Linked DNA regions of Homo sapiens. The protein of the gene in region 2 purifies or fractionates together with the protein of the main gene of each other region. This does not show direct contact. Each region holds a gene or a part of one and is shown on either strand. Other genes may lie near its edges. The genes, in order: SLC12A2, LGALS9, SLC12A7 and ATG9A.

Region 1 (7,228 bases), on a different chromosome or scaffold from region 2:
ATAGTCATATTTGTACTACTTAACACCCATTTCTTTAATCCATCTGCTAAAATTCTAAGCAAAATTATCTTCAACATGTAGTTATTAGTTAAGCCAATAAAACAGTGGCCATAAAGATTATGAGTGGCAGAAGGTAAACTACAAAGAATTAAAGTACCTGTTGCATAAATGAAACTGAACATAATATTTATATACTACATTCACCTAATAACGTAAGAATTAACAGAATCTAAAATTGAGATCCTAGAGTCTTCTGAAGGGCCAATATAAGAGGGAAATAACAACTAGGTATTATTTTCCAGGCACTGAACATGGTCATTTTTATTGCGCTTTTTTTCTAATCTTCATGATAACCCTGAAAAGCTGAAGCTAAGAGGTTGGGTGATTTCTTCAACTACCATACAACTAACAGTACAGGTGTTGTTTTTTAGATACTTTGAACCAAAAAGCCAAGCAAAAAACACAAACACACAAATCTAAAGTTTTGGAGAACTTGAAGTGCTTTGTTATTGAGATAATTTAATTTAAAGTAGCAAAAACTTCCCTAGGAAGCATATAAGCTCAACATATATACCTTTCAATTGGATGTCTTTCTAAAACTTATGGGTAAATACAGATCACTTTACTGCTCACATACTTGGCTTTGGTAAAATAAATCTAAAATATATCTGTATAATATTTTCATTAGTAAAACTGTCCTAAGATAATGAAAATTGCCAGCTCCATATCTACTTTTGTCTACAATGATTTTTGAGTTTTGAAAAGAAAAAAGAATAGACTTGATAGAAACTACAGGAGTATGAATAAAAAATGTTTTAGACATTGTTTTGCTTCTGATTATGACAAAATACCACAATGGAATAACAAGAATAGTATTATCTAAAGCTAAATGATCTCAGGCTTTTAAACAATCAATAAGCTGTAAGAGCTCTGTAATTACCTCTGTGTGAATGTTACATTATCAAACACTGGGACAAGTACAATCTTGTATGAAATCACTGTATGAGATCAAATAATCATATCCAAAAGAAATCACATACTGGATTTAAACTTGTCCAAACTGTGATCATTTCAACCTATGTGGTACCATCCTCTTGCGTTCACAAATTCCATCAATGTAGTCATTACACACTTGTAAAGGAAGACTTCAAGTAATCCCGGCTCATAAAAAAGTTAAACATTAACGAAATCTCAAAAGCATCAATGTTATCTCAAAACAGTGACATTGAACGCTGAAGAAATAAGTCTTATGTGACCATAAAAAATAGTTACAAAAATCAATGAGTTTATGGGGATGGTTTTCTGTTTACAAAGTGTAACTGCTTATGGCAAAGACCCCACAGGTCTTTCTGGTCATCCTCTACAGAAAAACCAATTCTCCTGTTTCCCTTTTTTCTTTAAAGACTCGCCTCTGTCCCTTTTTTTTTAAATATACACCTCTCCCAAAACGTTTTCATCGCAAAAAAAAAGAGTTATGCCATTATTAGGAACAGCGTGTCCCAAGACAAGATCTCTATGATCCTTTGTATATTCAAGATTGCAAGAATTGAGCTTTAATAACTCATAGACCATAAACACACCCTGTTAAGGTTTTCCTTCAAACAGCAACATTCCCACTCTTGCGATCCCTAATAGGCGTACATAAGCCACACAACACAATCTTTCAAAACGACACAGATGGTAGGTGCTCTCCAACCTCTCTCGAGAGATCCTCACTGCACATTCTCCTCTAAAGGGCCCACAAACACTACTGTCATTCAGAGGGATGGTGACTGTTGAGCGTGGGTGGGAAAGAAAGTGCACACGAGATACCTAACTGGATGGGGAAGGTTGTTAGAGGCAGCCCTCCGGTATCACGTAACTAGCCAAACCCGCTACAAACTTTTGAGAGATTAAGTTAACATTCCTCGGCAATTCCACCCTTGACAGCTGAATCCAGAGATGCCAGCAAGTCGTGCACGTCTACTACTCCCGCCACCTCAACTCGGGAAGAGTCTGCAGCCACATCCCGCGGTCGGCATGCACCAGGGGCTGGGGAAGAAGGGAGGGCTGGGCGAGCTCACCTTTTCCAGCTCGTCGTGGAGCTCCGCCAGGCTAGGCCGGAGCAGCTTCTCGCCCAGCTGCGCGGCTGTGTGCCGGTAGTGATCGATCCTGGGCACAGCGTCCATGGTGTTGTGGCCGAAGGTGCGCAGGTAGTAGGTGTTGGTGTGGGTATCATAATAGTAGTGCTGGTGGTGCCCACTGCCGCCGCCGCCGCCGGAGTGCAGGCTGCTGCCCTCGCTCAGCACCGTGTCCCCGCCGTTCTGGAAGCTCACGTTGGGCCCGTCGACTCCGACCCCGGCAGCATCTGACAGGCTGTCTTCAGCCGACGAGGAGGCAGCTGGGTCCACGAAGTTCACGCGGAAGCGGCCCTTGGCTTCCTCGCTGCCTTTAGCCGGCTCGCTCTCGCCGCTGGCTTCCCCGTCCGCGGGGGTCTGCTTGGCCCCCGCCCCAGCACCAGCCGCCGCCGCTGCCGCCGCCGCCGCCGCCGCCGCAGCAGCGGCCCGCCCGGCGTTCTCGGAAACCAGGTCCACCTGGAAACGGCTCTGGCTCGGGGTGGGCCCCAAGGGTCTGCCCAGCCCGTCCCCGGCCGCCGCGGGGCCCTCATCGCGGACCCCGCCGCCGTCCCGGCTCGCGGGCGCAGCATCCTCCGGCACCGAGGGCACAGCCGTGCCGGGCAGTTCCACCCTGGCTGCGGCCAGCGCAGCGGCTGACGGCGTCTCCCCGACCCCGGCCAGTCCCGGGGCGCCGGAGGAGGGCGCCGTGGGCCGCGGCTCCATAGCTGCCCGACCCCCGGCGGAACTGCAGAGCCCGGCGGACGTCTCCGGCAGCACGCCCTCCACACCCCTGGCCGGCGGTGGCCACAGCCGCAAGACCAGGTGAGAGAGTCTTTCTCCCCGCCGCCTGCGGGCCGCCGCTAGCCTGGACGGCCACAGAGGCCACCGGCAGCCGAGCGAGCGCGCGAGTGTGGCGGGCGCGGGGCGGGCCCCGCTGTTTAAAGCCTCGGCGGGGCTGCGGCGGCGGCGGCTCCGGCAGCAGCACGCGGGAGGCGGGGCCGGAGGCTCCTCCGCCCCTCAGCCCGCCCACCCGCGGTCCCGCAGCGGCGCGCGGCTGACGCTCCCTCAGCGATCCGGCCCTCCGCGGCTCCTGCGCGACCCCACGCAAAAGCGCCCCGTGCGAAGAGCGCGGCCAGCCAGTCCGCAAAGGGCCTCGGGCAGTGCGGGCAGCACGAACGGCGCGATCGGGGAGCAGGCGCGGCTACGCTCCGCCTCAGTGATGTCGCCGGGAGGATCTCCGCGCGGCTACCTCCTCTTCCGCCGCCTTCCTCCCACGCCTTCACCTCCCTCCCCCGCCGCGCTCTGCGGCGAAAAGGAGCGGGCTCCCAGGCCACCTCCCCTCTCTCCACCCAGGGGCCGCGCGTCAGTGGACCTGCAGCCCAGGCAACGGGGCTGCGGACGGCGCGCGTGCCCTGCCTCGCCTCACGCCGGTAGCTGATGCTCCCGCGGCAGCTGCCACCCCAGCGCCCCAGCCACGGCTTCAGAGGCTCTCGCACGCTGGCTTTTTTTTTTTCCCCCCGCTTTGGTGAACTCGCAGTACTTGGGCTGAGCCCGAAATCTCGCGAGATGCTGCAGGCGTCAGTGCGGCTTCCCACTAGGCGCGTGGTACCCGAGGCCGGGCCGGAGCCGCAGGCCAGCCGCGATTCCTTCGGGCGATGCTGGGGGCTTTCCGGTCGGGGCCGCAGCCGCTTCCGGAGCCGCGGGCGAGGTGCGTTCCCCAGCCTGGTTTGCTCTGGGCTCTGACCCGCCGCCGCGAATCTCCGCTCGTAACTCCGGGCCTGAACCTGGAGGAGGGAGGATTTCCTCTGTGCAGCTTTCGAGCGGTAGACTCACCCTGCCAGGCAGACCTAGATTGGCATAACCAGAGATCAGTTCCAGTTGTGATGCAGTGGGTGTCTACACACTTCTGATGACACCTTTATTTTAAAAGCTGATGTTCCAAGGTGAGAAGGGAGCTTCTTTGAGACGTCATGTTGTTTCAAGACGAGTTTTAATTTAAGGCATTTCCAAAAGTGATATGCAGCTCATCTCTCAGAATACAATGCCGGCAATAACTACCCGTGGAGTCCTTACCAGGAGGTTTCTGCGTGATTTGGGTTGTGCAGAATTCCTCTGCTTATATAGAAACAGAAAGGTACTCCTCTGCAGGTCTAGTTTCTCTTCGGTAAAATGTAAGGGAATATAACTGTGTTCCCACTTTCTTAGCAGCAGAAATTTTTAAACCTATAGATTATGCCCAAAGTCCTAAGTAAAATCAATGAATGGCGTCCTCCAATTACTTGGTTTTTATTTATGTACTTTTTTTTTTTTTTTTTGAGACGGAGTCTCGCTCTGTCGCCCAAGCTGTAGTGCAGGGGTGCGATCTTGGCTCACTGCAAACTCCGCCTCCTGGGTTCACGCCATTCTCCTCCTGCCTCAGCCTCCTGAGTAGTTGGGACTACAGGCGCCCGCCATCACGCCCTGCTAATTTTTTGTATTTTTAGTAGAGTCGGGGTTTCACCGTGTTAGCCAGGATGGTCTCGATCTCCTGACCTCGTGATCCGCCCACCTCCGCCTCTCCAAGTGCTGGGATTACAGGCATGAGCCACCGCGCCCGGCCCTTGTATTTTTAAACTTTGACTTTATGGAGACGAACACCATCGTTTGCTGAACACTTGAAACATGATGAAAGAGCCACAGAGTTGGCAGAACTGTTTGAAAATGCTGTAAGTAAAAGCTGCAACCAGGCAATTTTCAAAAAATTGTCATAAACATGATCTTACTTGAACTTGACAACTTTTCAGGCTATTTTATTATCTCTATTTTTAAAGACGGTGAGAGGGGAAAACAGCTGTTGCATCAGGATTTTTAAAGCTCCTTTTGAGCTTTAGTAATAACCAGAGGAGGCCAGAAAAATGAGGTGGTCCTTTAAGCAGTGCAGTTTTCTACTAGGGAATTGCTGCATTAGTAGTTGATCCGTGCAGTACCTTTCAGCTCCACAACGAATTCTGCCACTATTGGAATTCAACATTCATTTAGTTGAATAAATACTGAACAGGTACTATGAGCTACTCTGTATTTACGGGATATAGCAGTGAGCAAAACGGACAATCCCATCTCTCATGGAGTTCTTTCTAGTGAGAAAGAGAAACAATAGACAAGATAAATAGGTAAAATACATAGCATCCAAGCAGTGAGTACTAAGGAAAGGGAAATGGGATATTTGTGTGAAATGAGGATCATAAAATTTTCCATAGGATGGCCTCACTGAGAAGGTGATATTTGAGTAAGGAAGTGAGTGATATGAGTTCTTGGGAAAAAAAGTGTCTGAAGCAGAGGGAAACCAAAGACCCAAAGGCAGGAGCATGCTTAGCATGCTCACGGAATTGCATGTAAGCCAGTTTGGCTGGAACTTGCTTAAGAGATGTGAAGAATCAAAGGCAATTACATCAGAGAGCTTAGGATATGGGATGTAGTAGATCAGAATGTTTAGGACCTTTTTTGGCTGTTAGACATACTTGACTTTTTTAGTAGAATAGTGTGTTAGTCAGCTCAGGCTGCCATAACAAAATACATAGATTGGGTGGCTCAAACAGTAGAAATATATTTTCTCACAGTTCTGCCTGCTGGAAGTCTGAGATCAGAATGCCAGCATGATCATGTTCGGGTTTTCTTTTTGGCTTGCAGACAGTACCTTCTCAATGTCTCCTCAGATGATAAAGAGAGCGTTGTCTCTTTTCTTATAAGGGCACCAGTTCTGTGGAATCAGGGCTTTACCCTGATCACCTCATTTAACCTTAATTATCTCCTTAAAAGGACTGTCTCCAATACAGTCACATAGGAGTGAGGAGAGGATTCGGGCTTCAACATATTAATTTAGCAGGGTACACAACAGTCCTTGGCAGATGGCAGGTTATTGGAAGGTTTCAGTGGAGGAATGACATCTGCCATTTTTAAAGGATTCATCTAGCTGTCTTGTAGGTAGGCAAGGGATAAATGGTTGGGTCAAAGAAGCAAGGAGATGTGTTAAGAGGTATTACAGCAATCCAGGAAGTGATGATAGCGCTTTGACCACAGTGGGTATCAGTGGAAATGGGGAAAAGTAGTTGAATTCTGGGGAAACAATAGAATTTGCTGATGGATGTGAAGTGTGAGAGTCCAAGGGTTTTGACCTCAGCAACTGGAAGAATAGTATTGCTATTTTCTGAGATGGCAAAGGAGGTTAAAGGAACAGGTTTGGGTTGGATGAATATCAGGAGCTTAGTCTGAGATGTCTGTTGGAAGAAACACACAAATGTGTATTAATAATAAATAGTAGTCACTCATATAAATTTGTAACTGCAAACAGAAGTTCTAGGGGATAGGAACGTAGTATAAGGAAAATGCAAAATAGGCCAGACTTAGTCAAGACAGAAGTGACTTTTTAGCAAAGGTCTAAAGGAAAATTAGGACCAAATTGTCACTAGAGGGTTTCCAACAAGGGAAATATTGTGGACAAATGCCCTCATGGAGTGAGCAGGGACTATCAAAGAAGCAAGAAGCTTGAAATCAGTTTGGTTAAAGCATAGGGAAGGATTGGGGGCAAAAGTAGTAAGAGATGTGTCTGTATTCTAAAAGCCCTATAAAAGCATTAATGGGTTTCTGGATAGATTGAGGGGCACATAATCAGATTTGTGCTTATTAAAACTCTCTAGGCCTGGCAAGGTGGCTCACACCTGTAATCCCAGCACTTGGGAGGCCAAGGCGGGTATATGGCTTGAGCTCAGGAATTCGAGACCAGCCTGGACAACAATAATGAAACCCCATCTCTACCAAAAAAACCCACAAAAATTCAAAAATTAGTGGGGCGTGGTGGCACGCACCTGTATTCCCAGCTCCCTGGGAGGCTGAGGTGGGAGGATCACTTGAGGTGGGGGTTGTAGTGAGCTATGATTGTGCCACAGCACCCAGCCTGGGCGACAGAGTGAGACACTGTCTCAAAAAATAAATAAATAAAAATAAAACTAGTTATATTATGAGCAGAAGAGTGGAGAAGAGGAAGAATAAGCATGGAAAGTCAGGACACAATTTCACTAATCTAGCTGTGAGTTGATAGTAGTAATAGTAGTTAGCCTTTATAGAGAATTTAGGTCCTGGATACTGTGCCAAAATCT
Region 2 (7,019 bases):
TGTTTCTTTTCCTTTTCCATCTTCTAGAGGCTGCCTGCAGGCCTTGGCTTATGACCCCTCCTGCCATCTTTAAAACCAGCAGCTTTGGCTGGGCCCAGTGGCTCATGCCTATAATCCCAGCACTTTGAGAAGCCGAGGCAGGAGGATCTCCTTAATCCAGGAGTTTGAGACCAGCCTGGGCCACAAAGTGAGACCACGTCTCTACAAAAAATAGACAAACATTAGCCAGGTGTGGTGGTGCATGCCTGTAGTCCTAGCTACCTGGGAGGCGGAGGTGGGAGGGTCACGTGAGCCTGAGGAAGTGGAGGCTACAGTGAGCTGAGATCGCGTCAACACACTCCAGCCTGGCTGACAGAATGAGATCCTGTCTCAAAAAAAACAAAAAACAAAAAACGAAAACAAACAAAAACCCCCCAAAAACGCAAACCAGCTTCTTCTTGCTTCTGTGCTTCTGTTGTCACATCTCCTACCTCTGACACTGATCCTCCTGCCTTCCTTTTATAGGATCCTTGTGATCACATTGGGACCACCTTTAAAATCAGGACAATCTCCCCATGCCAAAATTACTAATTTAATCACATCTACAAAGTCCCTTCTACAACATATTCACAGTTTCCGGGGATTCGAATGTGGATGTTTCTGGGGGGTGGCCCACTGGTAACCAGTGTTATAAGTTTCTTATAAATCCTTCCAGATATATTTTATCTATAAATAAATAAATGCAAGTCCATAGACTTCCCCCACCCACTTTTTATACAAATGGCATCATTCCATATCAGTGCTCAGAGTTCTGTCTTCCTCTTTTTCTTTTCTTTTTAAGGCTACACAGAACCTATTAAATGGAAATACCCTAATTTATTTCACCTTTTTCCTGTCAGAGGACTTTTAAGCTCTTTCCAATGCTTTGCTTTATAATCCTTTGTGTTATAATGCTGCAATGAATAACCTTGTTTGTAGGATGATATTCAATTTAAAAACTCATTTTTCAGGCCAGGCATGATGGTTCATGCCTGAAATCTTGGCCCTTTGGGAGGCCGAGCCGGAAGGATCACTTGAGCTAGCCCAGGCAACACATAGAGACCCCATCTTTACAAAAAATATTGTAAGATTAGTGGGACATGGTGGCCTGCACCTATTTTGTCCCAGCTATTCGGGAGGTTGAGGCGGGAGGATTACTTGAGCCAGGGGGTGGAGGCTGCAGTGAACCATGATCACAGCCCTCACTGAACTCCAGCCTGGGCAACAGAGTGAGAACCCATCTCTAAATAAATAAATAAATAAATAAATAAATAAATAAATAAATAAATAATCTTGTTTTTCCGAATTTTGGGGGCACTATTTAAGATATTTTGAAACCTCACAGAGCTTTTTTGGGGAACTTGTTGCCTTGGAGATTAGCCTGTCCTGTCCCGCCCCCATGATCTGTACTTCCTCTTTCTCCCTCCTGGCTTCCTTAATTAAGCCTTGTGTGTACTTGCCAGCCCATGTCCATCACGCTCTGCCTTCAATTCTAGATGCTGTGCTGTGAATACACTTAAGTGGAGGCCGCATGCTTCCCAGGAGGGTGTGTATTTTCAGTGTTGTGTCTCATGATAGTATGAAAGGCTCTGGAGAGAATCACAGGCTTCCACAAACAGGCAAGGAGAAAAATGTTCCACAGACATGTTTCAGGGAAAACAGGCTTCCCAATCCTAGGCCGTGCTGGTCCATAATTGGATCAGGCTGACTCTCCTTCCCCTACACTGCTGGTGTAGACAGGGACAAGAATGAGAAGTCAGAGACACAGAGAAGCTGTGATTTGCTTGAGGTCACTAAAGTACTTAATGGCAGAGTTCAGACCTGACCTGAGGGGCAACAAAAGACACCCCCCTCAAATCCATGGGGAGCAGAGTCTAACTGAATCAGATCCCAGATTTCCTGGGGCTCTCACGGTGCCAGGTGTGTACACTGAGCTAGGATGGGTTTCCCAGGGTTCTGTGTGGTCACACAACTCAACAATACAGACCAGAAAGCAGTGGCAAGTAGGCTGAATTTGGCTGGTGGGTGTTTTCTGTTTGGCCTGCACAGTGTTTCTTTTAACGTTTTATTATAGGAAATTCAAACATGCAGAAGGAATTGTACCATCAACAACACACACCCATCACTCTGCTCCAACAATGATCAACTCAGGCCTATCTTGCTTCATCCTATACCCTCCCTCGCTTGCTTCCTTCCCACCCTCAGATATGTGGAAGCAAATCCAAAGATACCATTCCATTTCAAATATTTCATTTTGTATCTCTATAATATGGGAATTTGGGGGGTTTCAAGACAGGATTTCACTTTGTTGCCCAGGCTGGAGTACAGTGGTGTGATCATGGCTCACTGCAGCCTCCACCTCCCAGGCTCAAGGGATCCTCCCACCTCAGCCTCCCAAGTAACTAGAGTTAAAGGTGTGCACCACCACACCTAGCTATTTTTTTTTTATTTTTTGTAGAGATGGGGGTCCCATTACGTTGTTCAGGCTGGCCTCAAACTCCTGGGCTCAAGTGATCCTTCTGCCTCAGCCTCCCAAAGTGCTGGGATTATAGATGTGAGCCACTGTGCCCAGCCAGGAGCTTTTACATAATCCTTTTTGACAAATTTTCCCCCAAGAAATTAGAAAGTTTTATAGAAAAAAAAAATCCGGACTTCTGTCTTCTCTTAAAAATTTGGAAGCTCTGCCAATACTGGGCCCAGATGGCAATCACTGCTTAGCACGGAGTAGATGTTGACTTTTCAGATGAGGGGTGTGACATCTACTTTGCCACAGTCCCCACCACTCCCCCACCTGGCCATCTCACCCATACACATCACCTGCCTGGCTCCTTTAGGCATTTAATTTGTGTAGGAAATTGACCTAAAGGAGATATTAGAGAAGACATTAAAAACTTGAAGAATGTGAAAATCAGCCAGGAGATAGAACTGTGCTTTAATGCGGGTTATAGAACGACATTGGATATGAAGCATTTTGGGAATAAACTTTGAAAATTGGAAGTACCAGTTTGTGAATTTTGCTGAGAGAGATGAAGGTGGGGGGTGGGTGACAGTGGTGAAGCATCTCCTATGTGCCAGTCTCTTTTACCACAGGCTGTTTCTCACAAAATCATCAATCATATGCAGCAGGTGAAACACCTTCCTATTTTACAGATGAGGAAACTGAGGCACAGAGAGGTGAAATAGGCTTCCCAAGGTCACTCAGGTCATGAGCAGCAGAGCTAGGATTCAGACCTGGAGTTGGCCTGACTCTAAAACGATGCATGCCTCACCATGGCCCATCACTCCTTTAAAGAGCACCAGAAGAGAGAATTTGACAAAGTGGTTGCCCGTGGGGCCTGGGATGGGTGGGGAAACCACGCTAGGCCTCGGGGCTGCTGAGGGCCTGAGGGAAGGAATGGGGAGCCCGGGCACAGAAATAGAGGAGGGGGCTGCCCCACGGCTACAGAAGGCATCTGGGAAGACGCTCTGCTGAAGGTGGCCAGGAGGGCAAAGGTCACAGTGGCCATTGTTATATGGTGGTGGTGGGGAGAGGGGGATGGCTTCTTCTTAACCTCCTCGGGTGAGTCGAAGGTTTACCCTCCAGACCCTTGATGGGTCCCTTTGGTCCCTTGGGCTTCCTGAGTCTCCAGCCAGGGCCTGGGACCTTTGCTGGGAGCTTAGCATGGGGTCCAGCAGCCCCCATTGCTACCTAATTCCTTAGCAGCCCAGGGTGTCTGCCTGCTACTTCCCTGCCTGGAAGGAAGGCCTTCTGCCTGGTGCATTCCTGCTGCAGCCTCCACTGCCTCTTAGACTCTCACACAAGCTCAGCTCCCTGTCGCGTCCTCTCAGGGCCAGGCTTCTCCTTATCACAAGCTTAGACTGTCTGAGTAACTAATTGGATTTGTGTTTGCCTCCACACAGGACCCTAAGACCCGTGGGGCTGCGACTCCCTCTGTACTGGTCACAGCCGCACCCTATCCCCTTGCATGGGGCTGTCAAACCCAGGCTGGCCACTGACTAGCGCTGGAGGGGAGCAAACGGGAGGCCGGCCACCTGACTGATGTTCCCACACCTTCTCCCTGCAGGCTGTCCCCTTTTCTGGGACTATTCAAGGAGGTCTCCAGGACGGACTTCAGATCACTGTCAATGGGACCGTTCTCAGCTCCAGTGGAACCAGGTGTGTGTGTATATGGATGGAAACGTTTCACTCCAGCCTCGTCCCTTAGTAAACCACTGTGCCTGTGAGCCTGGGTTAGTTCAAACAGCAACATCCAAGCTCACGTGCCTGGCTCAGGGGAGGCCCAATGCGTCCCTAACCCATGCCACAGGGCAGCACTCCACAGGCACAACCTGCACCCAGGGGTGCCATTAACCTGGACTCCAGGATGAATGGGGCCCTGGGAGCTGACGGTCTAAGGAGGGCGTGGGATGGTCAGAGTTGGATGATTATGTTCTGGGTTGAACCTTGCACACTGTGACTAAGAGTTGCAAAAATCAAACTTCCTCCATTTCCCGTAACTGCTCTCATCCACTCTGAAGCTCTCCTTCTGCTGATGTGAAAATATTGAAAATTGCCATCAAAAGTAATTTGGTCTCTTTTGGTTTCAAGGCCTTTTCTAGAAACTACTAAGTCAATTCAACATACTAACATTGTATCAGGGCTGTTTCCCACCCCCTCCTCCCTCCCAAGGTGGGCTGTCTGGGAACAGAGAAGAGCTCACATGGCTTCTCAGTGGCTGGGAGGGCTCTAGACCCTCACTCAGGCCTGGCTGACCCCTGCCGAGGCACCCCGACCGGGTGGCACAGAGGTGTGCAGCTCTCTCCTGGTTTAGTGGGGGACCATGGGTGGCTGCCTGCTGAACTCTGCGGGGCCCACAGAAGAGCCTCTGGACTCATGACTCTCTCTCGGAAGCCTCTCTGCCTCAGTCCCAGGGGACCTCTCCTTAAGACCTTCTGGGCCTCACAGATCCCAGCTAAACCTCAGCTTGGACACCTAGATTCTTGGTGACCTCCTCCGCCATTGCCATCCTGCTGTGGGACTTCTCTGAGAGACTGCGGTGCCCTCAGGAGATGCCAAGGGCAGGGAGGCCCCGATCTCCCTGAACCCTCCAACCAGGGGAATCAGGACCATGACCCTGATCTTCCGCCCCTTCCTCTCTCCCTCTCCCTCCACCTCCCCCACCCCCCAGCACCAGGAGGGCTTCCCACTCCCATCCTGTCATATAGAGACAGATCCTACCTCAGAGGGCCCTCTCCTCTTGGGAGCTTTCTGTCTCTCCCTTCCTTGGGGCAGGAATTTCGAAAGGACTACAGGGATGAAGCTGAAGGACTCCAAAGGAAAAAATACATGCAGATATATTTCAAATGCAATCTTCTCCATTTATTCATTTAATTAATTAATTTTTTTCTTTTGAGACAGGGACTTTCTTTCACCCAGCCTGGAGTTCAGTGGTATGATCATAGCTCACTGCAGCCTCAAATTCCTGGGCTTGAGTGATCCTCCCATCTCAGCCTCCGGAGCAGCTGGGACTACAGGAGTGCACTATGATGCCCAGCTAATTATTATTATTATTATTTTGAGATGGAGTCTCGCTCTGCCACCAGGCTGGAGTGCTGTGGCGCTATCTGGGCTCACTACAACCTCCGCCTCCTGGGTTCAAGTGATTCTCCTGCCTCAGCCTCCTGAGTAGCTGGGACTACAGGCTCATGCCACCATGCCTGGCTCATTTTTTGTATTTTTAGTCGAGACGGGGTTTTACCATGTTGGCCAGGATGGTCTCGAACTCCAGACCTCGTGATCCACATGCCTCAGCCTCCCAAAGTGCTGGGATTACAGGCGTGAGCCATCATGCCCAGCCAATTTTTTTTTTTTTAACTAGAGATGAGCTCTCACTATGTTGCCCAGGCTGGTCTCAAACTCCTGGGCTCAAGTGGTCCACCCGCCTTGGCCTCTGCGCCCAGCCCCAATTTCACATGCTCTTTACATTTGTTCTCTTCTTTCCCATTTAATCAGGCATGTGCTGGCCTCCAACAAGTGTCCACTGGCACAGAAGGCTCTCTCTTCTAGGTGTGCTTAACAACTTCCATCTTCGGTATCAATTGGTAATCACTTTCCAAGACCTATGTTTCTTGTTTGCTAATACCAGCACTTTTCCTTAACCGTTTTCTATTTGCTTTTAGCAAATCATGCTGTAAAGGCAAAATCCAATAATTAAAACAAAAACACATTAGATCCCAATTAGAAAAACAAAAACGATGCCAACAAAGCAGTCTCTGCCATACAGGTTGTGTGCAAGATCCAGACAAATGCAAAGCACAGGCGCCGAGGCCCTCCTGTGCCTGTCACTGGCAATAATCCATGCCACAGAAGACTATTTGCTTTCCCTGGGCCTAGGTTTGCTGTGAACTTTCAGACTGGCTTCAGTGGAAATGACATTGCCTTCCACTTCAACCCTCGGTTTGAAGATGGAGGGTACGTGGTGTGCAACACGAGGCAGAACGGAAGCTGGGGGCCCGAGGAGAGGAAGACACACATGCCTTTCCAGAAGGGGATGCCCTTTGACCTCTGCTTCCTGGTGCAGAGCTCAGATTTCAAGGTGAGCAAGAATCCCCTCCCCACCTCTCACCCCTGGGACCCCCAGCCCTATCAGGTGAATGGCCTTTAAGTAATCACCTAAATTGACATTCAGCCAGAGTGACACCACTATACAGATAACACGCTCATTTCCTTGTGAGGTGTTACCCATGGCTGCCTAGTCTCCTTATGCACCTTCATCTGAATCTACAGGTGCACCTGCTGCTTCTTTTACTCTGAAAATAAGAACTAGAGGAGTCATCACGTTGCTATTTGGTGTTGTGTGTCTTTGAATTCCAAGCTCATTCCATTCCTCTGCTATAGCCATTCCTCCTCTCCAGGTCACTGGTAACATTTATTTTTCAGCGACATCGTTCCAGCCTTTATCCAGGGTCTATTAAGGGTATAGTTTTGTAAGCACATTGCAAATTACCCTTGCAAGCAGAGT
Region 3 (7,643 bases), on a different chromosome or scaffold from region 2:
ACACTTTGAGAGAAGGAAAGCCACACACGTGGTCTAAAAATCCTGGAGCCTCCTGAGTGAGGGGAAGAGTGTGTCGGACTCATCCACGGAATCTTCCAGAGGGAACTTGAGCGAAGACTCAGTGTCCGTGAATTACAGGACTGAGAGCTTTGTCGCTCAAGCTTGACCTTCTGTTGGCGTCACTTACAGTCTCAGACACAGATGGTCTGAGACGAGCTCTGTGGGAGGGGAGGCCCCTTCTATTCCCAGATTCAGCTCCATGGGATGTACCCCTGCCCAGCAGGCACAGGACCCGGGGGAGGCTCAGAACCCCACGTACCTGGCCACTGTGCAGACAGGCTCCCCAGCGCCAGGCCAGGCCCACCATCCACCAGGCCCAGAGGCCCCGCCCTGGGCAAGCCAGGGATCGGGGCGGGGGGCAGCTTGCGGTGCCTGCCTGGGAAGAGCCTGGCATTGTTTGCAGAACCCTTGGGACAGGGCTGCTTCTTCAGGGGAGATGCAGCCATGGGCCTGGGGCTGTGGCTGGGGTCTTCTGTCATCCCTGCCTACCACAGCTCCCTTCGAGCCCCCACAGGTGGTGGCGGATGTGGGGCTTTAGGGCCACCCTGGCCATGGGCAGAATTCTCGGCCCTGGTGGGACTCCTGGGCAGGGAGAGTGTGGGTCCCACAGGTGGCCGGAGACTCTGCTTCCTCCACTGATGTCCACATACCCCACCCTGCCAGGAGAGGCTCACCACGCTTAAAAAAAAAAAGGTTTGTTTTTTAAAAATCACTTTAGCCTTGGGTAACTGGGGCCTCCCTTCCCTCTCCTCCCTTCCCACCTCTTTCCTTTCCCTCCCCCTTCCCCCGATTCTCCTTCCTCCCCTCTCTCTTCTGCTCTGCCCTATTCGCTCTCTCCCCCACTCACCATGGGTGCTGGGCCAACAGGCAAGAACCTGGGTGGGTGCCCGGCCCTGCCAGGCAGAAGGCGGGTGGCTTTCTGGTGAGAAGGAGTGTGGGGCCTCCAGGGCCGGCCTCCTCCAGGTGTCCCCTTCCCTGGACACGGAGCTCTCCACGGACACTCTGCCTGCCAGCCCCACCTGCATCCTTCAGCCCTGGAGGTGCGCCCTGCCTGATACCCGACAGCAGGTTCCCAGCCCAGAAGGATGCAGATGGCGCACCAGGAGATGAGCCCCCCACCCTAACAGGAAAGCAGAAGTGGACTGGGGGGACCCGCGGACCTGGGGAGAAGCTCCGTGGGCAGAGGCACACAGATACCTGGAGGCAGCCTGCGTCTGGTGAGAGCCCTCCCAGGCCACAGCCCTGATTCCAAGCCGTGGGCACGAGCGGCCTCCTGGCTTGGAAGCTGGCATTGGGTGTCCGTCCTAATCCATTAGAAACTCCACCCCAGGGTGGCAGGCAGCAGGGACTGTTTCGAGAATCTACACACAGAATGTAACCACCATCGGCTACACTTTCGCACTAAATCCCAGGGTTCCCCTGGCTGTGCCCTGCACACGGCCAAGAGGCCATCGCAGATGACCAGGCTCACATCATAAGGATGCGAGATTGCATTTGAAGAGGCCCCCTGGGCAAAGCTGGACACCGATGCTTGGAAAGGGCACTAATGGTGATCGACTGAGACCCACCAATGTGTTTCATCAGCGATGTACAAATATACTTGGGAGATTGTCGGGAACCAATTCACCGTTGTGGAAACTGACAAATGAGGGAGAGGCACCCTTGCCCTGCCTTTCCTGTGGGCACCATTATCCAGATGGCCAGACGGACAAGATGAGCCTCTCCCTCCAGTGAATTCATGACGAAGCCACCACGCACTGGAAAATCACCATTTTGCTCCATGAATCTGTCGATTCAGACATCAAGCACCAACGACTGCGGACGGAGGAGCTACCACCAGACAGTGCGTGGCTCCCTCTGCGAGCCCCCGGCCTTGCCAGGGGACTGGACCCGGATCCCAGCAGTCCCCTGGCTCCAGGTGCCCACTTCCAGGAGACGCAGAGGCCTGCACCGAAAGATGCAGCTCCAACCCAGGCCTCGGGTACCTCCACGTGTCCGAGGGCCACTTCCTACAACAGGTGCCGGGTACAGAAAAGGACAGAGGGATGGAGGTGGGTAGGAAGAGAGCACTGAAAGTCACACAACGCACATTTAACCCCAGGCTGCCGTGTGGGAGGATATACGTGGACACGGAAACCCACAGAGCGAAGGGAGGGGCCACCAGACCCCTAGGGATGGGCTACTGATGGGATGGGAGGGGCCTGCAGCGGCTTCTGGGCTCCGGCAAGGGTCTCTGTCTTGACCCGCAGGTGCTTACAGGGTGCTGATCCCTGTCGTGACTCACCTGATTAGAATGCAAAAGGCAGCAGACCTCACCCCCCACCCGAGGTCTCCCACAAGTAAGATCTAAGATTTAAACAAGAGAAGCCACCTGCCTTCTGCCTGGCAGGGCTGGGCACCCACCCAGGTGCTTCAGCCATGGCCCCTGGTCCTAGTCAAGATTTTGTAATCACAGAGAAGACCACCCTCGGAGCTGCCACAGGACCCTAAACTCCTGGGCCTCAGTTTCCTCCTCTGTAAAATGAAGCTGATGAGTCCTGAGTCCGGGAGCTGGCCCTGGCCACAGACCCTCCAAACCAGCTCCTCTGAAGGTCCACAGCCAGCACATGGCGGGCAGCCGGCCCTGGGGTCCTGGGGTGTGAAGCAGAGCTTGGATGTGCGACGGGAGCCCTGCACATCTGTTGCTCCTGCTGGCATCACTTGGGAAGGCCTCGTGCCCACCCTGAGCTCTGTCCAACCCTCGGGAATAGCGCTGGGTGGCAACCAGGGTTGAATGTACAGAAGCCCCTGCTGGGGTGACTGAGGAGAGGGTTTACCCAGCACCCTAAGTGTGAACCCTATAATTGACCCCATTGGGCACTTCTGTTCCCACCCCCTGGATCTTTTTAGCAAAGCCAGCCCTCCTCATAAGGATGCCTGGGAACTATTTTATCTTCTGGGGAGGTGATGGTTTCCTACCTTCCAACCCACTGACCCAGGGAGGCAGCTGACCTAGCACCATCCACAGCCCTGAGCTCCCTTTGGTGGGAGGTGGGGTGAGAGTGTGGAGCAGGCACAGCTCCAGACACCCAGGCCAGAGGAACCCCCACCTCTGCAAGGGCTGGTGCTGGATGGGCGACGTTCCAGGAGGGTCCCAGGCCTACAGCTTCTGCCCAGAAGAGTCCATGGGGCAAAGGGGTAGAACCCTAGGCCACCCCAGGGCATGACTGGCTTTACTGGAAATGGCTGGAGAGGTTGGGCTTGCGTTCCTTGAACCCACAGAGCCCGGTGATCCCACAGCCCGGAGGCCATCACTCCCCTCCAGCTGCCTTTTAGGATTAGACAGGCAAGCGGCTAAAACATGGCCAGGCCATACCCATTTTCCACGTGACAAGAGGCTGTGGCCGTGTTTGCCCACACCACCTGTGTTTCTGCTTTGTTGTCGTACAGCAGTTGTGGGTGATTAGGAATAAAGGCTGACTCATTGCACCTGTGTGCCATAGCATTTTAGCCCAATTCCCCATTGACGGACATCTGATTGTTCCGTTTTTCATGAGTCATTTGTTGAGAAATGTGCCAGGTGCTGGCCGGTGGTATCCTGGTGTCTGCCTGGTGGGTTCTGGAACTCCACCTTCCCTGCATCACCCTGTGAGCTTCTGGAACATTTCCCAAGGAGGGAAGGGAGGGTTCTAGGGCAGGGGCCGCGGGGCACTCCTGGGGCAGGTGTGGAGGAGACTGGGGTCTTCGTGGGTGGTATTTGTCATGGGTGGGGGGGGGGACTCCCTCTACTGGGTTAGGTCCCTAAACTGGAGCTGGACCAAGCTCCGGAGTACCCCACCCCCAGGCTATCCAAGGCTCCTTCCACTGGAGTTGCCTTTGCAGCCAGGTTGGGCTAGCCAGGAGCCAGGCTAGGAGCCCAGGGTCTGAGCGGGTGTTGACAGCCTGGAGTGGGTGGGCGGACTGTGTGGGAGGTGGGTGCTGGAGGATGGCAGGGGGGAACAGGAGGGGGAAGAAGGAGGGGTAGGGGGCTGGAGCAGGAAATGGGGGGCAAACAGGAGGGGGTGCGGGAGGGGGCGCAGAAGGAGGAGGGGCCCAGCAGGAGGGGGTGCAGAAAGGGCAGGGGTTCCAGCAGGAGGGGGTTCATAGGGGCAGGGGGGCCCAGCAGGAGGGGGTGCAGGAAGGGTGGGGGGGTGCAGGAGGGGTGAGGGGTTCCAGCAGAAGGGCGTGCAGGAGGGGCAGGGGGCTGGAGCAGGAGTGGGGGGTCGGGGAAGGGGACAAGAGGGGAGGCGGGGAGGGGGCCGGGGAGGGCGGGGAGGGCGGGGAGTTCCAGCAGGAGGGGCAGGGGGCTGGAGCAGGAGGGGGTGCAGGAGACTGAGCGGGGATTCGCGGGCTCTGCGATGGTCGGGAGCGCAGGCAGCGAAAGCCCCGCGTCCCGGGTCGCGGCGGTCAGACAGACGCAGCCTGGGTTGGGGTCCCTGCAGGAAGTCGCCGCGGGCCAACTTTTCGTGGGGCCGCGGGGCAAGCAGGTGAAGTCACGTGGCCCGGGCGGGGCGGGGCGGCTCGGTCGGACCCCGCCCCTGCCTCCAAGTCCCGTGGCGTCGGCGGGAGCGGCGCAGCGCGGGCCGGGCCGGGACGGGGACTGTCGGCTGCAGGCGGCCATGCCCACCAACTTCACCGTGGTGCCCGTGGAGGCTCACGCCGACGGCGGCGGGGACGAGACTGCCGAGCGGACGGAGGCTCCGGGCACCCCCGAGGGCCCCGAGCCCGAGCGCCCCAGCCCGGGTGAGCGCGGCCGCACCTGGCCGGACAAAGGCCGAGCGCCCCGAGCGCGGGTCTGGGCCCGGCATCCGGGAGCGGAGGCGGGCGGCGGGGCCGGGGGTACAGGAGGCGCCCCTTCCCGCGCCCCCACCGCCTGTTCTCGGTCCCCCACGAGGGCCCCCACCCCACGTTAGTGGCAGCGCTAGGGGGCGAGGGGCCCTGCCAGGGCTCCCGGTACGGTCAGCTCGGGTGGGACCGGGGGCAGAGGTGTGGACGCCGCTGCTGGTAGCCATGGAAACGGGGAGGGGCTGGAGCGCGCCTCCGGAGGGAGCCCGGGCCCCTGGGTGGTCCCTAGTGGGACAGGGGTGGCGGTGGAGACCCGGGCGGTTCGGGAGCCGGGGCGTCCTGCGTCCCCCGCGCTCTCCCTTCCCCTGCGCCGCGGCCGTCCGGTAACACTAGCCCGGGCCGGCCCGTCCTGCCCCCGCCTGACCCTGGAGGAGCCGCCCACCCCCCAGAGGCGGAACAGGAAGGACTGCGCCCTGGCTGGGGAGGGGGCAGCCACCGGGGCCTTGCTCAGGCCGCGTCCTCCGTGTTCCCGTCCCCCGTTCCGGGAATCTGGAGGTTTCTAGCACTTTCACTTTCTCTAGGGGGTGGGGACGGGGCTGGGGAGAGAATCCCCCAGCCCTGTTCCCTCCATCCTGGCTCCAAATCCCAGTTACTCCCCGGATCTCAGCCCCCTCTAGAAACCGGAGGCTCTTAGGCCCTTCCATCCGGAGTCTCTGAGAAGGTGTCCGGACTCAGTCCAGCCCCCACCCCGCGTGCTGGCAGTGCCCGCATGTGCCCGGGTCTCATGCAGTGGGTGGCAGCCTCCCTGCTCCCTGGCAGTGGAAGGAAGGTGAGGTCTGTCCAGGGACAAGTCCGGTGCCAGACCCCAGATCCTTCCTAACCCACCATCCCGGGCAGGAAAGGCCAGACATCCCCTCCAGGCAGTTTAGGAACCCGGAGACACGGGTGGGGACCCACCGTGAAGGCAGTGGCCTGGTGGCCTGGGGTGCGTCATCAGGGTCCCCGTGGCGGGCGAAGAGTGGTCTCAGCTTCCTCTGCACAGAGGCCAGCCCAGATCTTGGAAGTGGTCAGGCGGGGCGCCAGGCTCAACACCAGGTGAAGTGCTAACTAAGCAGGGTCCGTGAGTCCAAGCCCCTTCTCTCCAGTCACCACCGTGGAGGCAGGAAGCACCAAGGAGTGTGGGCCCTGGCGTGGTCTTTCTGTGTGAGCTTTGTAGCAACGCCCCCGGAACGCACTCAGAAGGAGCCTCTTCTTGTCTGGCCGGCCCCTTCTCAAGGCTGATCAGGTTCACTTTTGTCTTTAGACTGTAAGTGTCATTTGCTTTTAAGCCAGAGAGAATTTTGTGCTTGTTCGTTTTCTTGTCTCTTCTACTCTCAAGGCTGTTGAGCAGTGCCCTGGGCCTGTGTCTGCCCAGCAGGAAGTGGCCCTGGCTGAGCGCTGCCCATGTCGCTGCCCGCGCACTCAGGTCCTGCTACGGGCGTGTCAGGAGGCTCCCTGGCCTTCATGAAATTGAGAACGGGAGGGCATGGGCCAGGTGTGGGCTTCTGGACACTTTTGAGGGTGGCCCTGTGGTGTGAGCTGAACTTGGGAGATTTCTCCGAACTGGCAGAGAACTTGCACCTGGCGCTTTTGTGCTGGACCCGCTTCCTACTTCCACAGAAAGGGCCCGGTGCCCAGCCACTGCCAGGCTGTAACGGGCACGCAGCTGCCCTTCGGAATCCACTTGATCACATCCTGATCTTCAGCCCACAGAGGTGCGGCGAGGAGTCCCGTGATGGGCACGGAGCCTGGGGAAGGAGGCACAGGCTTTGCTTTTTGGTGGTGGTTGGGGGCGGGGGTCCTGCAGAAGCCGGAGCCCCTCCCAAAGGCCTTCTGTGTGGGGTCCACACCACAAGGTCACAGGCCAGGTCCAAAACTGTCCGGCCACAGAGTTACCAGCACCCAAGCTCTTCCTGACTCCATTGCCGTTCCCCTGAACGGTCTGTGGAGGTACTGGAGCTTCTGGGCTGGCGCCTGGGTGACGGCGAAGCAAGTTTGGGGGGCCTGGTGGGCTGATCCTAGGCACTGCCAGGTGGGCGTGGAGAGGGCGTCCTGAGCCACCCCAACTTGAGGAGCAGGGGCCTTGGTGTCCCCAGCCTGGGTTGGGGGGTTCTGGGGAAAGAGGGGTAGATGCTGCTGCCCGGGCTGCCTGGCTCGACCCAGAGCCCAGCAAGGCCGCGTCTGCCCAGCCTGGCTCCAGGGGCCTTCTGTCCCCGACCCCTGCAGCTTCCCTGCTGCTTCTGGTGGAGCCTCTGCGGGAGGCGTCCTGTCCCGGGGATGGGCACTGTGCCCTCAGCACTTCTTGGGACGGAGCTTTTATTCTTATGTGAAATACCTCGTCTTGAAATGAGAAGGACGTGTTAACCCTCAGTTTCTCAGTGGGGTGGTTTTTTGAGAGTAGGAGGTGGGAGGACACTGCTGGGGGCCGGCTGCGTCTCGTCCGACTTCAGGGTAGAGTGGGTTTTGTAACTGACTTGGGGGAGCCCACCCTTCCTCCGTGACCACATCAGGGTAGACTCACTCCTTCCCAGGTTGTAGGGGTGCGTCCAGAGGCCTCGGAGACCCTGGGAGGGGTGGGAAAGGAGGGCTGGCCAGTGCCCCGGCCTGTCTGGAAGGTGCAGCGTGCAGAGCCTCTGTCAAGGTCCCACAGGCCCTGGCCACCCACTGTCTAGGAGGGACTTCCACTCGTCTGGGGCTCCCTGGGCTGGGAGAGGGTGGGTCCTGCCTTGTACCCCCAGGTC
Region 4 (7,789 bases), on a different chromosome or scaffold from region 2:
TAGACACTGTGGGTGTGTGTTTAAATAAGGAAATGGGTCAGTTATGAGAGTAGGGAATTTGCCAGTGCATTTTTAGGACAGAAACTCAGATCTGACAGTTGCCAGATAGTAATCAAACCCTGTTTGGGAGATTCCTCATTCTGCCCCAGCGCTTCCTTTTCATCCCTGCAGATCTTTCTTATTTCTTCCTCAGTAGGCTTCTTTCTCTCCTCTCTTACTGTTTTCCAGTGTGTCTGAGGTGAGTGCAGTCTGACTGCTTCCCGAGGGTCTTCTTCTGCCATAAAAGAAAAGATCTTTCTCAACCTTAGCTGAGGAGAAGCTAGCGCAGGTTTCTCTCAATGCAGATGTAGCTGGGCTGCAGTCCAAGGCTTAGAAAATCCTCTGGATATACCAATGAGAATGGAGGCTTAGGTTGGAGAGAACAGGAAGGTCTAGGGAATTGGGATCTGGAGCAAAGGCTCACCATAGACATGCAAAGTGGTCAGCTTATGGAGCACACGCTGTAGCTCTTGGAAGGTGGGTCTGCGGGTGGCGAGGGGGATATCCCAAAGTCGGGGATCCCCCCTTTGCAGGGGTGCTCCCTTGCCTCCAAAGAACAAAGACCGGCCAGAGCGGGGAGCACGCAACAGTATTGTACCAGCCTCCTCCAGCGCCTTAGCCCAGCTTGGCCCTGCCAGCAGGTCACGAACATCCTAGAGAAGAGAGTAACTCAGTCCTGCATACCTTCACTTGCTATTTATAAATCTCCAACTAAAAAAAATGGCCCACAGAAGTGCAAGGGGTGGAAAGTAGAGGATAACACGGAGAAAGAATAGAGGACTAAGGCTCCTGGGGAATCCCTCATCTACCTTTGTCTACCTATAATGAAAATTGGAAGGATATGAGTCAAAAACCTCCCTACTTAACAGTGAGTTGAACAGAGATGCAAAAAAAGTATGGATCAGTACCACCAGATCTAAAAGGCTTAACTCACCTTATATAGTGTGGCTTCATTGTAGCGCCTCAGGTTGGCTCCAGCAGAGTGTGATGGCCCACCTCGGGCATCCCGAAGCCCCTGGGCTGTGCCCCGCTTGGCCCGAACCGTATAGCGGTGAAAAGTTTTGTGTGTCACCACTTCTCTTCTGTAGACAGCACAGACTCAGTACTGGAGACCAGCTGGTGCTCCCTGGCTAACAGGATCCACTCCATCCTTACCCCCATGCAGCACCCTCTCACCCTTGAAATATAGCACCAGCAAAGTGCCCAGCTGCAGCCATGAGCACCACGCAGTCTCTGGGACCTCTACTTTGCAGGTTCTGTAGCAGCAGTTCTGCCTCTTCTGGGGGATCCTTGATGACAGAGAAGCATCAGAAACATATCTGTTGCATTCACTGAGAGCAAGAAACTAAGGGCCAATTTTCACAAACATTATCTCATTTAATATTACCACCCTGAGGCTTGTTTCCATTTGACAAACAAGGAAATTTGAGGCTTGGCGAGGCAGTCAAGATGAAGTGGTAGAATCACAATTCAAACCTAAATTGGTTTGTTTCCAAACTTAATTCCATTACACTTAACCCTTCCACAATTCAGGCCAGTTTCAATTCAAGACTATGTTGTCAAGCGTGATACCCACAACCAACAGGAAGGAAGAGAAGCAGGGAGAAATGCACTAGGCTAAGGGAAATCTAGGCTGGGTGTACAAAAGGCTGGGGTTAGCCATGCAACCTGTACTGTCACTTGCCTGATGAGGGCCTAGGACACAGCGGTAGGCATAAAGAAACTGGCCCTGGGCATTCTGGAAAAGAACTCGATGAGGGTAAAAGCCTGGGGGTCGGCTCAACTTCTCAAATGTAGCCCTCTCCCGATCCAGTGTCTGCAAGTCCTCCTCACTGGCTGAGTCTGAGTCTTCTGATCCCGAGATGCTGGAAAGATCTCCTGAAGACAGACAATATGAGATACACAAGTTTGGTACCCCATTTTTGTTCTTTCCTCAAACTCTAAACTAGTGCTTTCTTATACCTCCATGTCCTACTCCTACATAGGTCCCCCTACCACTCATCACCTGTGGAGCTCTGCTTTTCAAAGTCCAGGGCAGACAGGAGAGGCTTGTCCTTGAGACGTTGCTTTAGGTTAAACCGATGCCAGTCAAGCTTATAATGTTCCCTCTAGTACAAAGACAAAGAGTGAGATAAAGGTGGAAATATGCCCCAGCCTGGCCTTGTACTGGCCAAGACCAGTTATAGTATTCTAGGAAGTACAACCAGGTAACACCAACTGCCTCAGTCAAAGCATGGACCTTTATTAAGACAAATCAAATGTCTACCTCTCCCCACCCACCATTACACTTTTGCTTCTAACATCTAGCTCTGCACCTGACCTATTACCTGTTCTTGGTGGTTCTGGAAGGTCTGGTCACAAGTTGAACAAAATAACTTCTCTGAAATATCCATAGGACCCTGGAGTAGCTTTCTTTCTGGGCTTTCTCTCTCCCCTGAGCCTAAATAAGGGAAGAGGAATTGGACATAGAAAGGGAGCCCAAATCCACAGTGACAAGAATTATATTCAGAGTGTGATATACAAAGCAGAGGAGGATACAAAAGAGATGGCATGATACTGCCTTCAAGGAATTTACACTCTAATAGTCATGAAATAAACAGTACAGCAATCACTTAATGCAATAAACATGCTTCTGAAAACATGTACGTAAAATGAATGTAAATAAAATAAAATTGGCCAGGTGCAGCGGCTCACGCTTGTAATCCCAGCACTTTGGGAGGCCAAGGCAGACGGATCATGAAGTCAGGAGATCAAGACCATCCTGGCTAACACGGTGAAACCCCGTCTCTACTAAAAATACAAAAAATTAACCGGGTGTGGTGGCGGATGCCTGTAGTCCCAGCTACTTGGGAGGCTGAGGCAGGAGAACGGCATGAACCGGGGAGGCGGAGCTTGCAGTGAGCCGAGATCACACCACTGCACTCCAGCCTGGGCAACAGAACGAGACTCTGTCTCAAAAAAGATGAAGAAAAATAAAATAAATAAAACGAATGTAAATAAAAACTGGCCCTGGGCATTCTGGAAAAGAATCCGATGAGGGTAAAAGCCTTGGGGTCGGTTAAACTTCTCCAACGTAGCCCTCTCCCGAGATCCAGCGTCTGCAAGTCCTCCCCACTGGCTGAGTTTGAGTCTTGTCTAATTTAAATTAGCCAAACAGATTGTTTAGGTGAATCCTAAAGAAAATAATTTCTGTTCAGTTTAAAATTATTTTTCACTGCACAAAAACTACTTCCCAAATGCTTTTTAAAGTTTACATTTCCAATTAGTGTACAGTTTGTCTAAGGAGAGGTGCAAGAAAAGATGTAGCCAAACTAAAGTTACACAAAACAGGACCGACACGGTGGCTCATGCCTGTAATCTCAGCACTTTGGGAGGCTGACCCAGGCGGATCACTTGAGGCCAGGAGTTTGAGACCAGCCTGGCCAACATGGTGAAACCCCGTCTCTACTAAAAATACAATAATTAGCCGGGCATGGTGGTGCGGGCCTGTAGTCCCAGCTACTCGGGAGGCTGAGGCAGGAGAATCACTTGAACCCGGGAGACGGAGATTGCAGTGGGTGGAGATCGTGCCACTGCACTTTAGCCTGGGCGACAGAGCGAGACTCTCAAAAAATAAAGCTATACGAAACAAATAATAAATTGTTTCATATTCAGCAAAAAGGAATAATTTGAGTGGGGCCTGGTTAAATGTGGAATACATCTGAGAATTTTATCTCTACAAAGTTTAAAGTGTTTTTGAAGGGAATGGTGTTAACGTGAGGAGATACATGCAATGGCAAAAAGACTTGTTTGAAAACAAGGGCTGTGCTGGACATTACCCAGAGATTAAGTGAATTTAATCAAGCAGAAAGATAAATCAATTGGCCTCCTAAGCTCGGGAATACCAATAAGAATGTGTTCCCTGAACGGGCAATACGCTGTAAGGAGCCCTGTCACGTTTCACACGAAACCTTCCAGGATACCTGAACAGGAAGTACGCGGAGCCCGGGCCAGAGCCTCCCCAGGCGCGTGGCTCACCAGGCTCAGGCCCTGAAAGACCGGAGCATCCGCGCTGAGGTCAAACAGGGAGATCGACGCAGGAGCCGGGGCTGCATCTGGAGCCGGCGACATGGCTGAGCAGAAATTATTTAGCAGCAGCTCCTGGAGTAGAAAGCGTGTAAGAAACAGGGCTCCTGCAAACGAGATCCTACTGCTGCGTCTCCTGCCTGCCTGACTTGGTTTCTCCTGCACCGCAAGACTTCTCGTCTCTCATCCTGCTACCAACTGTGAGATGAATACCTTGGCCCCCGTCCACTTTCTCAAACCCCCAGTCTCAGCCCACAAAAGAATGAAATAGGCATTCGGCTCCCAAATCGAGTCCAACAGAGTTAAAAATCACTGAGCTTGCCTAGCCGAACTTTCTTCGTTACCCATGCGACCAGCAACAACTGGCCCGCGTAAACTCGCCCACGCCCTTAGAAGACGCACCAAACGTCCCGGGAGCTGAGCGGCTCGCAAGTCCTCAGGTCGATTGCCGGATTTCTGCAACACAACAATCCCCGTCACTACGGAGCAGCGAAGAGGACAACCGGCGGCGTCCGCACCTGAGCCCCGCCCCACGTAGAGCACACTATTGGGCCGCTGACTGTCCAAGACCCGCCTCGAGACTTTAGTCCCGTCCCTGAAGCCGAGAATTGGCCGTTGTGTCTCCGCCCCCCGTGCTTATTGGCCAGCCTGGCTGCGGGTGACAGTGAGTGGCAGACACCCGGCCTAGCGCCGCGGGTCGCGCCGAGCCGAGCCGAGCCGAGCGGAGCCGGCGGAGCCTCTGGAATCACCCGGGTCGCTGTTCCTGAGGTAAGACGTGAGACCGGTTATTGGAATCCCAGGCCCCGTGTCTGGCCTTGCCCAGGGGTGCCTGCGGAGCCCTAAGTGAGCTCGCGGCGGGTAACGGAGGAAGGGGCGCCGCCGGCGGGGCGGGGGCGCGCAGCCGGAATGTTTTGATTGCTGGCGCGCGCAGACGGGGGCGCGCGCGGGCGCCGGGGCCGCGCGCGAGGTTGTCCGCTGTTGGGAGCTGCCAGCCCTTGGCCTGGGGCCGGGCGACCCTGGGGCGAGGTGGACTCCGGTCCACGGTCGCCGCGGCTGGGTGTGGGGAGGCAAGCCAACCCACCCGGGCTATCAGCTGTAAGGCTGACTCGATCCCTGCAACATCCGCAGGAACCCCTGAGCCCAGGCCCAGCCGGCCGGGGCTCCACGGGCCCTGGTCCACACTGACCCTGTGAGTGGTGACTTCCCTGAGGGGCAGGGCTCTCACTAGCCCAGGGAATCCCACCGGGGCCAGGCTGGGCCAAGATCCACGGCCCCCAGGGGCTGCACGGACAGGTGAGTACCACCTCGACCATGCCTGGCTTACAGGACCTAGGGAACCCACAAATTCACCTAGGATCGGGGGTCTACACTGACCCAGTCAAGGTTTCCCATCCAGAAGGTTTGCTCACCGGCTGGATCTTTGGTGCTAGGGAAGTAAGAGAAGGGGTTGACCAGAAAGGTCCTCTTCAGGAAAGACTCTTGAGGTTTTGTGGACCCTGAGAAGTATGTCATTTCTGAGGCTAAGGTAGGGCAATGGAGAAATAGTCCAGAGGCGCCCCTGGCCTCAGGTCTGTACCCACTCATTCTCCATGGGGTCCCTAAGTTACTTCTTGAGACCCTGGAGTTGGAAGAGTGGCCCGGTTTAGCACAGCCAGAGGAAGTGCTCGTAGTCCTGGGCTGGAAGGGTGCTTCTTCCCCACTGCAGCCTTCCTGCCCCATGCTTGGCCTCCTCTTGGTGGGGTGTGGATGGCTGGGAGGGTTGGGTTCCTTTTTATCCCCACTGCCCACTCTCTGGGGCCTGACATCTTCTCCTCCAGCAGCTGCAGAGCATCGAGGGCTGGAGAGGAGCACATACTGTCCATGGAGCTGGTAGGGCCATGTGCTTTTCTCAAACATTTGTTTGTGAAGTGCTTCCAAACTGTTAGTCTCTTGGGAGACCAGGGTTCCCAGGATGGGCGGGGGAGGGACTCTTCTGTCCGTTAAATAGAAGATGAAACAGCCCCCAACAAAGGGACAGATTCTGGCTTTGGGCCAGGAAAGCAGCAGTAGACACCCAGACTGGCCAGAGTTAAGGCTCCCCCAGCCCTGAGCTTACTGCCTTTCTTGTGTCACTACTCCTCTGCCTCTGAGCCAAGGAGGCTGGTAGTGGACAAAGCCCAAGGGTACTTTCTCCTTTTGGCAGTAGGCAGGGCAGCCCATGGGCAGCAGCTGGAACTGAATCAGGGTCTCTTCTTCCTCCTTATTGGCAGGTGGTCAAGGTGGACAGGGGGCGGTGGTGATGGCGCAGTTTGACACTGAATACCAGCGCCTAGAGGCCTCCTATAGTGATTCACCCCCAGGGGAGGAGGACCTGTTGGTGCACGTCGCCGAGGGGAGCAAGTGTGAGTTCTTGGATATGACAGCCATAGGGAGAGTTGATGGAAGAACATGGAGAGAGCAAGGGGCTTGTGTTCTCCCAGGGCTCTGACATCTCTGTTCCTATCCCACAGCACCTTGGCACCATATTGAAAACCTTGACCTCTTCTTCTCTCGAATATCCTTTGTGTTTCTGAGTTGGAGCTCTGGGACCTTTAATGTCTCTCTAAGCCGGGGCTCTGGTGGGAGGTGGGGGTAGGTTTGACTCTAATACCTGGAAACGGGAATGGAGCTCATCCTGAGGCTGAAAGAGGCTGGTGAAATCATCGTTAAGTAATGATAGCCCACATTTACCAAGATCTGTGTGCCTGTGTCCACTTTGTGGTGTTAATTTGTAGAAGCCTTTCTAAGGGTGAGCCTCCTTTTTTTTTTGTTTGAGATGGAGTCTGTCTCTGTTGCTGCTAGAGTCCAGGGGCGATCTCAACACACTGCAACCTCCACCTCCTGGGTTCAAGAGATTCTCCTGCCTCAGTCTCCCACGTAGCTGGGATTACAGGCACCTGCCACGATGCCCAGCTATTTTTTGTATTTTTCATAGAGACAGGGTTTCACCATGTGGCAAGGCTGGTCTCGAACTCCTGACCTCAAGTGATCCACCTGCCTTGCCCTCCCAAAGTGTTAGGATTACAGGCGTGAGCCACCACACCCAGCCGAGCCTCCTTTTTGATGGGATGTAAATAATCGTAATAAGTAACGTCTTTTGACTCATTCTGTGTCAGCTCTGTGTTAAATGCTTTACATGCATTATCTTAGACCTAATACTCCTATGAGACAAGTGTTATTTATTCCTAATGTACCACCATGGACAGACAAAAGTTTAGACAGGTTAAGTAACTTGGTAAAGTCACACAGCTAGAAAGTCACAGAGCCAGGACTTAAGCTTGAGTGTGTTGACACCAAAGTCTGTGCTCTTACCTGCTTTCTTTACTGACTACTTTTTCTTAACAATTACACGTTTATAATCTGCACCAGAAGAATGGCTTCACATGTATGCTCATCGGGGAGATCTTTGAGCTCATGTAAGTATAAGAAGGGACAGATGATGTGGTGAAAGAATACATCTTAGTCTTTCCTCTCCTTGCACTCACACTTGGCCCAACCTGCCAGTACAACTCAGTCCTAGGCTAAAACTCCGTAAACCTTTGTAGTTCAGGGACTGGGTGTGGCACCAAAACTTACAGCTTCACCTTTCTTTTTTTTTGAGATGGAGTGAGTCTCACTCTGTCGCCCAGGCAGGAGTGCAGTGGTCTTGGCTCGGTGCAACCTCTGC

Evidence for each region.
Region 1: the proteins of LGALS9 (region 2) and SLC12A2 purify together in Homo sapiens (affinity purification with mass spectrometry; 4 studies listed by BioGRID and IntAct, with this or other methods). This does not show direct contact.
Region 3: the proteins of LGALS9 (region 2) and SLC12A7 purify together in Homo sapiens (affinity purification with mass spectrometry; 4 studies listed by BioGRID and IntAct, with this or other methods). This does not show direct contact.
Region 4: the proteins of LGALS9 (region 2) and ATG9A purify together in Homo sapiens (affinity purification with mass spectrometry; 4 studies listed by BioGRID and IntAct, with this or other methods). This does not show direct contact.

The regions. Positions count from the first base shown.
Region 1 is NC_000005.10:128,079,546-128,086,773, reverse strand, and holds the start of SLC12A2 (solute carrier family 12 member 2), read right to left. Parts: upstream 3,009-7,228; 5' UTR 2,820-3,008; coding exon 2,064-2,819; intron 1-2,063. UniProt on the Homo sapiens protein: Cation-chloride cotransporter which mediates the electroneutral transport of chloride, potassium and/or sodium ions across the membrane. Plays a vital role in the regulation of ionic balance and cell volume.
Region 2 is NC_000017.11:27,634,181-27,641,199, forward strand, and holds part of LGALS9 (galectin-9), read left to right. Parts: intron 1-4,082; coding exon 4,083-4,174; intron 4,175-6,391; coding exon 6,392-6,593; intron 6,594-7,019. UniProt on the Homo sapiens protein: Binds galactosides. Has high affinity for the Forssman pentasaccharide. Ligand for HAVCR2/TIM3. Binding to HAVCR2 induces T-helper type 1 lymphocyte (Th1) death.
Region 3 is NC_000005.10:1,109,046-1,116,688, reverse strand, and holds the start of SLC12A7 (solute carrier family 12 member 7), read left to right. Parts: upstream 1-4,625; 5' UTR 4,626-4,697; coding exon 4,698-4,821; intron 4,822-6,087; exon of another isoform or gene 6,088-6,169; intron 6,170-7,643. UniProt on the Homo sapiens protein: Mediates electroneutral potassium-chloride cotransport when activated by cell swelling. May mediate K(+) uptake into Deiters' cells in the cochlea and contribute to K(+) recycling in the inner ear.
Region 4 is NC_000002.12:219,226,618-219,234,406, reverse strand, and holds the start of ATG9A (autophagy-related protein 9A), read left to right. Parts: upstream 1-4,770; 5' UTR 4,771-4,872; intron 4,873-5,921; 5' UTR 5,922-5,973; intron 5,974-6,353; 5' UTR 6,354-6,382; coding exon 6,383-6,485; intron 6,486-6,593; coding exon 6,594-6,637; intron 6,638-7,473; coding exon 7,474-7,538; intron 7,539-7,789. Other genes in the region: tRNA endonuclease ANKZF1, read right to left, coding at 119-274, 464-692, 974-1,121, 1,216-1,328, 1,724-1,917, 2,045-2,147, 2,367-2,479, 4,002-4,149. UniProt on the Homo sapiens protein: Phospholipid scramblase involved in autophagy by mediating autophagosomal membrane expansion. Cycles between the preautophagosomal structure/phagophore assembly site (PAS) and the cytoplasmic vesicle pool and supplies membrane for the growing autophagosome.